Regions from separate parts of the Homo sapiens genome. Here region 2 is linked to region 1. Evidence: fine-mapped expression QTL. Tissue or cell type: whole blood. Region 1 holds a variant in brackets; the other region holds the start of a gene. All regions are shown on one strand. Distances are between the middles of the regions.

What was found. PIP is the estimated chance that this variant, and not a neighbour inherited with it, causes the effect.
Region 2: it holds the start of TXNDC16, and the variant in region 1 is fine-mapped to the expression of TXNDC16 in whole blood (TOPMed, PIP above 0.99).

Annotation. Positions count from the first base shown.
Region 1 is chr14:52,469,759-52,475,259 of GRCh38, reverse strand. TXNDC16 (thioredoxin domain containing 16) reads left to right here. Exons shown (of 21, transcript NM_020784.3): 15 at 4,580-4,748; 16 at 5,087-5,223. Among named protein-coding and RNA genes, the nearest start is that of TXNDC16, 80 kb to the left of the region's middle. The variant G/A (reference allele first, on the strand shown) is at 2,338.
Region 2 is chr14:52,549,728-52,555,228 of GRCh38, reverse strand. TXNDC16 (thioredoxin domain containing 16) reads left to right here and starts at 2,724. Exons shown (of 21, transcript NM_020784.3): 1 at 2,724-2,913. It overlaps GPR137C (G protein-coupled receptor 137C), which reads right to left and starts at 2,393. Exons shown (of 7, transcript NM_001099652.2): 1 at 1,638-2,393. The coding sequence starts at 2,081. RefSeq lists silencers at 1,924-2,123, 2,134-2,203.

The sequences.
Region 1 (5,501 bases):
CTGTGGCCTTCTCTGAGTGCCTCTGGTAGCCCTCCTCAAGGACCCCTTGTGAGGTGAGGCACAAATGGCTTGGTAGGGGACCCAGCTAGTCCACAGGGATTTTCCTGCTGCTTCCTTTACCCGTGTATTTCGCTTTCGCTCAGCTCTCTAAATTGACTAAGCTCCAGATAAGGTCAGAATCTTCTCCCGTAATCTAGACCTTTAGGTTCCCCGGTGGTGGGGTGTGTGTTCAGGGGTGGACGATCTGCCTTTCCCACTTCCACAGTTTGAGCACTCACAGTATTTGGGGTGTCTCCCAGGTCCTGCAGGTGCAATCACTTCCTTCAGAGGGTCTGTGGGTTCTTTTGGCTTTCCTAATGTATTGCTGCAGTTTTGGAGCAAAAGTTCATGAGGCGAGCCTCCACACGCTGTTCTGTCTGTCCCCGTTCCTTTTATTTCCCAACCACATTTGATCTAACTTTTGATTATTACTGAGTGAGGGGATAATGAAGTCTGTAGACACTGTGATCTGTAATTTTTTTTTTTTTTTGAGATGGAGTTTCACTCTTGTCGCCCAGGCTGGAGTGCAATGGCATGATCTCAGCTCACTGCAACCTCCGCCTCCTGGGTTCAAGTGATTCTCCTGCCTCAGCCTCCCGAGTAGCTAGGATTACAGGTGTGCACCACCGTGCTTGGCTAGTTTTTGTATTTTTAGTAGAGACAGCGTCCAGGCTGGTCTCAAACTGCTGACCTCAGGTAATCCACCTGCCTCAGCCTCCCACAGTGCTGGGAATATAGGCATGAGCCACTGCGCCCAGCCTCTAATCATTTTTTTAAAAAGCAGATCCTCTTACTTGCTTTCACATTTTCCTTTATGCAAGGCAAGTTGCAATCTATGGACAAATTTAAGTTTTCTTCTTTTAGATTCTCTAGCCTTATTGGCAAATAATTAGAAGAAAAGCAAAGGAGGAGAAAATATAAATCATAATGAAGTAGTGATTGGATAATGTTCCTCAAGAATATGATTAATTATCCCTCTCTCCACCCCATTTAATTAGACACCAGATGAAAATGGAAAAATATTTCCTTGCATTCTTTTCTATTAATGACCAAATGAAGAGACTACCTGCCCCCTCAATGCAAGGGCTCAGAGTTGTATGTGTTTGTAGAATAAAAAAGTAGTTAAGCAACCCAGGACTTGTTTTCCTTTTCATTCACTATGTTCTTTATGAATAACAATTTTTTTTGGTAATCAGATATCAGATAAATGGACTATTTTGGAAGTTCAGGGAACTTAATGTAGAAATGCATTGCATAGGTAATTACAATGTTTTGTGTCTATGTTGAAGCCTATACTATAACTTTATAAGTTAGGAAAATATAATACCTTGGGCATTTAGTCCTATCATCTGTCTTTCTGACAGATCTGACTTTGTGGGAAAAAGCCATTTGTTATCTCTTAGTCGAAGACAATGAAGAATGTTTTTTACTCTGTCACAAGGTGGCAGCAAATGTCAAAATTTTATACTTACATAATACCTGTATCTAAGATAATCTGTTTTTTCTTTTAAGTTAGGAACCTATTTGAAATTACTGCATTGATAAAGTATATGGGATGTAATACTGTAGGCACCTTAGAATACTAGACTATTCCAACTGAAACATGAGTAAATATTGGAACCATTTTACAGGAATTGATAACTTCAGTATAAGTAGTTATATAACTTTTAGTGATATATATCAGTATTACTTTTCTGGTTTTAAAGATAACATCAAAGTTTTCCATTTCAACTGTAGGGAAAAAGGAATAATCACAGTTTTAGCAGTAGTAGACATGCTGAGGATGCTTATTGAAAGGAAAGAACTGCAGCTGGAAGAGCACTATATTCCATACTTGGGTGGCAAAATATGTAACGTGGCACTTTGTATAAACAAGCATCACCAGATGTTTATTGATGAAATCAAAGCAGCAGCGTTGTCTGGGGTATATACCCTGGGGTTCGTTGTCGCGCACCAGGAAAATTTAGAACACGGACACACACAAGTTGTTTAGGAGCAGAGGTTCAATAGAGAGGAGAGAAAGAGAAACAGCTTCCTCTATAGAGGAAGGCATCTCCAAGTGGAAAGGACTGGCTGGCAGCGAATGTGTCGAGTTTTATAGTCTAGTTTGAGAAGGTGGTGTCTGATTTACATAGGGCTCATAGATTGCTTCAGTCAGGTATGATATTTACATAGTGGCATAGGGAAGTCTGGTCGCCCCACCTTAATCTTCTTATACAAATGGTCTTTCCAGTTGTCTGGGGCCATCTTGTCTGCTCCTTACAGCACACATGGCTGGCAGAGAAGGGAAGACAGAGC[G/A]GCCATCTTGGAAACGTCTAGTCCTTAGTTCCTGCCGGTACGTGCACCCTTGCAGCTTGCAGGCTGCTCTTTGTTAGAAAAAGATTTGGGGCTGCTTTTCACTAAAAAGAAAAACCTTACCGAGGACTCCCCATACCCTTGCTATCTGCCTAAGTGATTTCTTCTTCACTCCTATATCAAAATGATTAAAATAAAGGATAAGAGAACTTTGATAGGAAGTCACTTAGCAGGTCTGATTTGGGAAGAAATAAGGGTTTATATTTGTTTATATGCTCATACAAAATTCAAGTATTAATATCCTTTAATGTAAGAATTTAAAATTTGTGAAGAAATATCAGTGTACATTCTACACATTTTTACTGGGTACATACTGTGTAACAGACATTGTGCAAGGCAGTGGGATATAGTGGTGATAAGACAGACTTAAGGCCGGGCGCGGTGGCTCACGCCTGTGATCCCAGCACTTTGGAAGGCTGAGGCAGGCAGATCACGAGGTCAGATCAGGACCATCCTAGGGCTAACATGGTGAAACCCTGTCTCTACTAAAGATAGAAAAAATTAGCCGGGCATGGTGTCACGTGCCTGTCGTCCCAGCTACTCGGGAGGCTGAGGCAGGAGAATCGCCTGAACTCGGGAGAGGAAGGTTGCAGTGAGCCGAGATCACGCCACTGCACTCCAGCCTGGGCAACAAGAGCAAGACTACATCTCAAATATACAAAAGCAAAAAAAAAAAAGACAGACTAAATCTTGCCTATATTATCAGATTGTTAACACTAAATCTAAAGTGATAAGTTATTACATCTATGAGAAGTAATCAAGAATCTTTGAAAATATACAAATTAATTTCAGTATTAAAAACATTTGGTGATAAAATATTAAAATACCACATTCACAATTTTAATCATATGATGAAGTAACATTTAGGCTATATCCTAAATTGATACACAAAGATTCCTTCTTTGATCTAGTATGATACTAAATTTTATCTTTTATTAGAATTTATTCTTTCGAGTTGTATGGTGCTTATTTTATTTAGTGTTTGATCTCTTTCCACACAGTGATTTATAATATTTTAGAGAACTTTACACGTTTTATTATAGAGCAAGTAGGAATTTCTGCTTGAGATTCTACTGTGTGTTTTCTTAGGCTGAAAAGAAATTATAATGTTTAGACAGGATAGGTATCTGAAGTCCTGGATGAGTTTCACATGTGTCATTTATTCACATGCATATTTAAGGTACTGCAGGTGCTGGAAAATCAATGATAAATAAACAGACATAGTCCCTGCTCTCAAGGAGTTGTCTTGGTAGAGACAGACGTTGATCAGATAATGAATAGTATATAATTACATAAGGAGATAAGGAAAAGAGCATGGTTCTATAATAGCATATGTCAAGGGAACCTGATGTAGATCACTGTGTCAGAGAAGGCTAGTCCTTGAAGTTGTACACGGTAAGAAAGATTTAATTCTGCAAAAGGTTGGTGGGGGTAAGCTGGTACCAAAATATTTGAGTTTTGAAAAGATATCTCTAGCATTAGTGTAGACACACTGAATTCAAAGAGGCGAATTAGAAGCCTATTGTAGTTATCCAGGAGGAACGACAACTTGAGTAGTGGCAGTAAAGAGAAATGGACAGTAATTAGATATATTAAAAATTCAGGTGGTAAAATTGAAAGAACATGCTGATTAATCAATAGGCATGAAGGGCCTTGGGAATGGAGAGGTATGAAAGATGATGCTTTGTTTTTTGAGTTGCACAAGAGCAGCAACGTTCACCAACAAACAGAAAAGAAACCATATATGGTTTTAGACTTGTTGAGTTTGAGGAGGTTTCCGTTCAAAGGAAAACAGAGAAGGTAGTAAGGATATATGGGTCTGGAACTTCAAGGAGTTTGGGCCAAAGACATAAATTTAGGATTCATTAGATTGTCTATGGTTATTGAGGTTGTGTAGGACAGGAGTGAAGAAAAACAAGAGAAGGCAGCTTAAGCTGAGCCTTGAGGGACCTCCAACTCTACTGGCTGAAGAGCCTGCAAAAGGGAACAAAAAGGAGAAGCTAGAAAGGAAGGGAAAAGGCCAACAGGGAATGGTGTTGCAAAGATCAAGGGAAGAGAGTGTTTAAGCAGGAGTGTTTCATGCTGAGAGGTTAAAATAAGAATGGGATAGAAAAATACTGAAGATCCTAAGCAAATGCATTTTCTACAATTAGTAATTACAAATGTGCATTTTCCTTTTATTTAGGCACATCTACTATGCTTCTTACTAGAATAAACTGTGCAGATTGGTCTGATGTATGTACTAAGCAAAATGTTACTGAATTTCCTATCATAAAGATGTACAAGAAAGGCGAGAACCCAGTATCTTATGCTGGAATGTTAGGAACCGAAGATCTCCTAAAATTTATCCAGCTGTAAGTATTCAGCTTCATTATAAGATCTCTGAATGTTTAGGTCTTTAGAAGTTCTAATTCTCAGACTTTGCTAACACTTAAAATAGGTTAAGGAAGATACTAGAATTGAGATCACAAAATGAATATTTATGAAAGTCTGTGTACATTTCAACACTTTTCGGGAGATAGCAATTTTGTTTAATGAGTCTGATTTTCTTTAAGAATAATATTTAATTTTCTATATTTTGTAAGATATTATCCTATGTAATATATTGTTTGCTATGTTTAGTATGCTTTTTTTTTACAAACTGAAAATATCTTAAAAAATTAATTTGTAATATAGTTATATGTTTATCCAGCAACAGGATTTCATATCCAGTGAATATAACATCGATCCAAGAAGCAGAAGAATATTTAAGTGGGGAATTATATAAAGACCTCATCTTGTATTCTAGTGTGTCAGTATTGGGACTATTTAGTCCAACCATGAAAACAGGTAAGCAGAGCTGAGCTTTTAAATTATACAGTAGAGTATATCATTGCTTGCTAGTTTTATTTTTTAAGAATATCTTTTTAAATTATAGAGAATTTCAAAATTATGGAGAAGTTTGAAGAAAAATAAAATATCGTAAGCTAATTATTCAGAGATAGTGTTAAATTTTGATGTAATTTCTTCCATCTTTTTTCTGTGTACCTACAGATTGCATATTTATGTATGTTTTAACATAATTGGGCTAAAACTGTGTATCTAGGTTAGAATCTTGCGTTTTTTTT
Region 2 (5,501 bases), 80 kb before region 1:
TAAATCAAAATATATAGGGAAAAAACAAGTCATCTGATGCCCCTGGCATAAAAATCGCTAGTCACTTTCAGGTAAACATCTGAACCTGGAGTAAAAGCTTCAGCGTTGAGAAGTCACTAACGCACTATCTGAAATGGTGGCAGGAAGATTACAATGTATCAGTTTAAGTATAAAGGGTAGAAGTGTTATAACAGCTTAAACGACAACTAGATTAGAACACCCTCAAATAAGTGACACGACTATGGCATCATTTGATTTGTGATAACCTATGCTTCTTATTTCCGCTTACTGGTTTGCGTTTTTGTCATTGTATTGTTTGGACTTTCAAAGGATGGAGAAGGAAAATAATAAAAGTTAAATTAGTTTTGTTGTTTTCAACTATTGTTTTTAGTGTGCTAAATAGCTGACATTATGACTGATTATAAAATTATGCATTCTACTTCCTATTAAAGGAGAAAAGAGTTGGTTTATGCAGGAAATATAAACACTTAATATACGTCATTTTTTTTTTTTTTACTTTTGCTTGGAACTACATTAATTCCATCACCTCCAAAAAAGCCTTTGAGAGGATTAGCTGCATAGGCCAATATTATTCTATATTAGTCTGTATTAAGCATATGATGTCACCTTGCTTCCTCCCCTCCTCAAGCTTTTCTTTTGGTGGGAAGGAGGACTTTTTTGGGGGAAAGTCTTAAAATATTATGGCTTAAATACCACAAGCTGACACACATGATTGACAACCTTACACTCCCAAACCTGTTTGAAATGGGTCAAATACCTAAGCGCTGCAGAACAATGCAATCCAACCAGCAATTCCCCATAAAAGAGAAAGGGGGTGTGATTAGGTTCCAGATATTAAGCAAGTTATTGCAAAAACAGTTTGGTGGTTTTGTTTCTGCAATAGGCACAGGTTAAGCTAGTATTTTTTTCTCTTAATTAGCTCCAAAAAAGACTATGCTAATAGGAGGTAGGATAAACCGCTAAAGCACGAAGCAACTGGGGCAAACATTAAGGGCTTTATGGAGGTCCTTATCCTGATCCTCAGCATTGGTTATTGATCATCAACCCTGCTGGGGAACTATCGAACGAAATTTATGTGAGGCTTATCGAGCCACAGGAAAGGAGATGCAGGAGGGAATATAAGCTTCTAATAAAAGAAACGCAGCAACAATAGCAGAGGAACAGCTCTGCCTGGTGACGTAATGGCTGGCAGCAGTCCAGCTTCAGCAGAGCTGCTGCTACCTCAGCATCCAACCTCCCTCAACACAGTCCGGCTTCGGCAGAGCCACCGGGGCTGCTACTTCTTGCGATGCCACTTTGTTGGTGCCACCAACGCCTTACCTCGGAGGGCCAGAACACCGAACAAAGGGTTCGTTCCGTTGCTGTTTTAAGTTGTCAGACACACACACTCACTCACTCACCCCCTAGCCCGAACCCCTCAGTAATCAAGCCAATCAGCCACTTAAGTTTAAGGCGAAAACACTGGCTCACACTCCAGGTGTGCCTCAGTTTCCCCAGGCTGGTTTCCAGTCCGCCTCTCGCTGCCCACCCCCCGCCCCCGCTGGTCCTCAGCGGGAGTTGATCCCGGCGGCCCCGCGCACCCGCCCGGGCCCCGCATGCCGGCCCTCCCGCCTTACCTCCGCCAGGTAGAGGTTGAGGAGACAGAGCGTGGAGAACTGGAGACAGGAGGGGAAGCAGTAGAGCAGCCAGTGGGGGAAGAAGTGCAGGTGAGCGGGCGGCCGGAGCAAGGGCAGGGAGCCGCTGAGCGAGAAGGCGGCGGAGAAGAGGGTGGTCCTGAGCGCTGCCCACAGGAGACAGAGGAAGAGGCAGAGGCTCTGGTAACTCAGCCGCCGCTCGCGGTACAGGAGCAGCCGCCACAGCTGCAGGTAGGCAAAGGCGAACAGCGCGGCGTAGAGCAGGGCGTGCAGGACGCTCAGCGCCAACTGCACGGAGCCCGGCACCGCGGCGCCTGAGGCTGCAGCGACGGCGCCTCCGCCTCCGCTGCCCCCGCCGGGCGTGGAGGGCTCGCGGCCGGCTGCGGGGGCGGCAGCGGCCGCCGGACCCGGCACGGACACCCTCATGAGGGGGCTGGGGGCCGGGCGAGCGAGCGCGGGAAGGAAGGGGCTGGACTCGGAGCCGCCGTCGAAGGGGAGAAGGACTGCCCCCTTACCCCCCACCCACCCCAGCCTCTAACCCCAGGAAGCGCCGTGACGGGACCCGGAGTCCAGCGCAAAGCAGCCGCGGCTCCCCCGGACCCCGCCTCCTCTTTCCCCCCACCCCCCGGGGGTCTCGGCTCCTCCTGCTGCGGCTCGGCTCCGTAGCTGCAAAAAACAACTCTCGGCTGGAGACAATCAGCTGAGAAACCCGAGCATTTGAGGCGCTCGCTCCGCACTGTGGGCTCGCGCCGATTGGCCCAGGCAGGCACGCCCCCTGAGCGCCGCGCTCGGAAGGCCACGGGCCGCAGGACCCGTCGCTCGAGGGCCCCGAGATCTGATTGGGCGCGTAATTTCCCTACTTTCTCCCGCCCCTGTACTTCCCACCCACGCTGCTGATTGGCCCTGCTACTGCACCGCCCGTTCGCGCCGGCGGGAGGACTCTGTAATCGTCTGTCACTCTCGCTCCGCCCACCACGTTTCCCATTGGTTAGAGAGTGCCTCGCGTAGGGAGCACGAGGAGAAGGAGGAGCTTCGCAGGTTGTTTTTTCCCAGGAGGCCGACTCCGCCGAGTCGGTGGCGGCTGCAGGCTGGGAGGGAGAAGTGCTACGCCTTTGCAGGTTGGCGAAGTGGTTCCAGGCTACCCGGCTAGTCTGGCACGGCCCCGTCTTCTGCCTCCTCCTCCGTCGCGTGGCGGCGGGAACTGTTGGCCGCGCGGCCTCGGGAACGGCCCAGGTCCCCGCCCGCAGGTCCCGGGCAGGTAGGTGACAGCGCTGGCCCTTCAGGCTGTGGGCTCTGCCTGCAGACCCGGGGATTCAGACGAAGCAGCTTTCTGTAGCCAGGGCTGCACTGCACAGCTCCGGAGTCTGACTTAAGACACCCGTCTCTGGGGCACCGAAGGGCCTCACCTGGAGCCTCCTGAGGGCATTTTGCTTTCTCTTTTCGCTGCATGAACGGCGGGAAACACCGGAGCCCTTTGTGGGTCGAGGGGATGGAAAGGGGCGACGGGGAGAATCGGAGCTCTTAAGTGAAAGACCCTTTCCTCCCAAGGCCAAGGGAAATGTCTCTTAAGGAAGAGTAGTAGTAGTATCAGATGGATGTTGAAGCGATCTGTGAGCAGGGGGAAGCTGGTTCTTTCAAACGTAGAATTTGGGAAGATGCTCTGGGCTTAAGTTTTGGGAAAAAGGCAGAAACAGACTTGTAAGTATGATGATTGCCTGGAGAGGAAGTAGAATATTCTGTACTGTTTAAATTCCACATGTATCGAAGCCTTGGACCTGTGTATGGTAGATGGTGGCGCTATTCCTGGGCCTGAGAGAGAAAATACATGCTGTGTTACTGCTGTGAAGAACCGAGGAATAATCAGATCGACTAACGTATATTGGGCCGGCACATAGTTGTTGACTTTTTTTTTTCCTATTTGGAAATAAGATTAGCAAGTAGTGCAAAATTAAAAGGAAATAATTTGTTTTCTTTAGAATACACAGCACATTACGAATTCAGTATCCTTGTGAAAGACATTGCTACGTTTATTGGAGCAACAAAGACCCAGCTTTTCTTACCTCACCATCCTTTGTCCTATGCTTTTTTTTTTTTTTTTCCTTTTTTTCATGCAGGGTCTCGCTCTGTCGCCCAGGCTGTAGTGACAGTTCACTACAAACCTCCACCTCCTGGGCACAAGCAGTCCTCCCACCTCAGCCTCCCAAGTAGCTGGGACTACAGGCACTGGAGCCACCATGCCCGGCTGATTTTTTTTTTTTTTTTGGTAGAGACGAGGTTTCACTATATTGTCCAGGCTGGCCTTTGTCATATGCTTTGCCCAAGAAGAGTGTTGCTGTCTTTTTTCCTAGCTAAGTATTCCACAGGGAACTTTAAAGTCTATTTTGTAGATTCTGGGACAGTCGTTTGTCCAGGTACCAGATGCTAGTGTGGTTTGAGTTCTTTATAGGTATGCTGACAAACTGTGGTAGATGTACAGGCCTAGCACTGTTACCTAGACATCCCTCAGATGAAACGTTCAGCTGAGCAGGTAGAGAGTGCAGTGTATGAGAGGGTACGGCTTGCTCTAAGAAGTTAACAGGCCTAATCCAACATCTATGCTTTGGAGAAGGATTTTATGTTTATTGGAACCTAAGAAGTTCATCTCATGTATTTTTAGAGAATGTGGTCAGGGCGGTACACAATTCTCTTCAAATAGGAGACAGGATGCTCATGACAGCAGTGATGTAATTGATTGCAGTAATGTGCTTAAGTATTTAAATTGAGCATAAAATCAGAGTTGTGTGATTTTAGGCACTTGTCAAAATCAAGGGCGCCACATATTCTCTGCCATGGCCTATTTGCATCTTCCATAATCATTGAGGTGCACATTTCAAGTCATCAATAGACTTTAAAAGGTTTTTCTTTTTCTCCTCTATTCTCTGCTCAAAGTGATAGTAAACATCTGGATAGTACCCATACTAATTTTAGGTCTTGGCCTGTGAGGCTTACCTGCCACCTGCCATGTGTCAGTAAGAGCAAGTCTGGATAGCTGCCTCCTTTCTCTTTTTTGGGGGATGGGAGTGTGTGTTTAGAGGTGGGCGGTGAGGGTGCAGGTAGAGGATTTTCCTCCCAACTGCTTTGAAAAGGCTCTAAAGGGGAGAGATGTTGACTCCTTTTATTGCCTCCTTGGGTCTGAAATGATAAACTGTGTTGAGATCTGATCAACATTTTATTTGAGGCTGGTTCAGTGAGCAGGTTCTGTTCTCCAGTAGCAGCATTAAACTGTAAGTAAGCTGACTTCAGACAGAATGTTCTTATGGGAACTTTGTAAGCGTTATATACTCCATTTGTTGCAAAATATGAAGTGTGTCTTTTTCCTGAGTATGATGGCCACAGATGTTGCTACAATTTATTTAATAGTTACAGTTGTTAATTTCCTTCTTTTCTGAGAGGAAAAGCCATTAATTTTATGGTTAATCATAAGGGAATATTAGGCCTATAAAGGGGGAACTAACCAAGGGTTTCCTAGAAAAGCTTGGTGTCAGCTATTCTAAAATTTAAATGTGTCCAAATGCATAAAGATTTAATATTGTTGTTCTGAGAGGACAGATGACCCTAGCACAGTAGTCTTTCAAACATTTAAAAGCAGAACTGTTTGGGTCGGGCATGGTGGCTCACGCCTGTAATCCCAGCACTTTGGGAAGCCAAGGTGGGCAGATCACGAGGTCAGGAGATCAAGACCATCTTGGCTAACACAGTGAAACCCCGTCTCTACTAAAAATACAAAACATTAGCCAGGTGTGGTGGCGGGCGCCTGTAGTCCTAGCTACTTGGGAGGCTGAGACAGGAGAATGGCATGAACCGGGG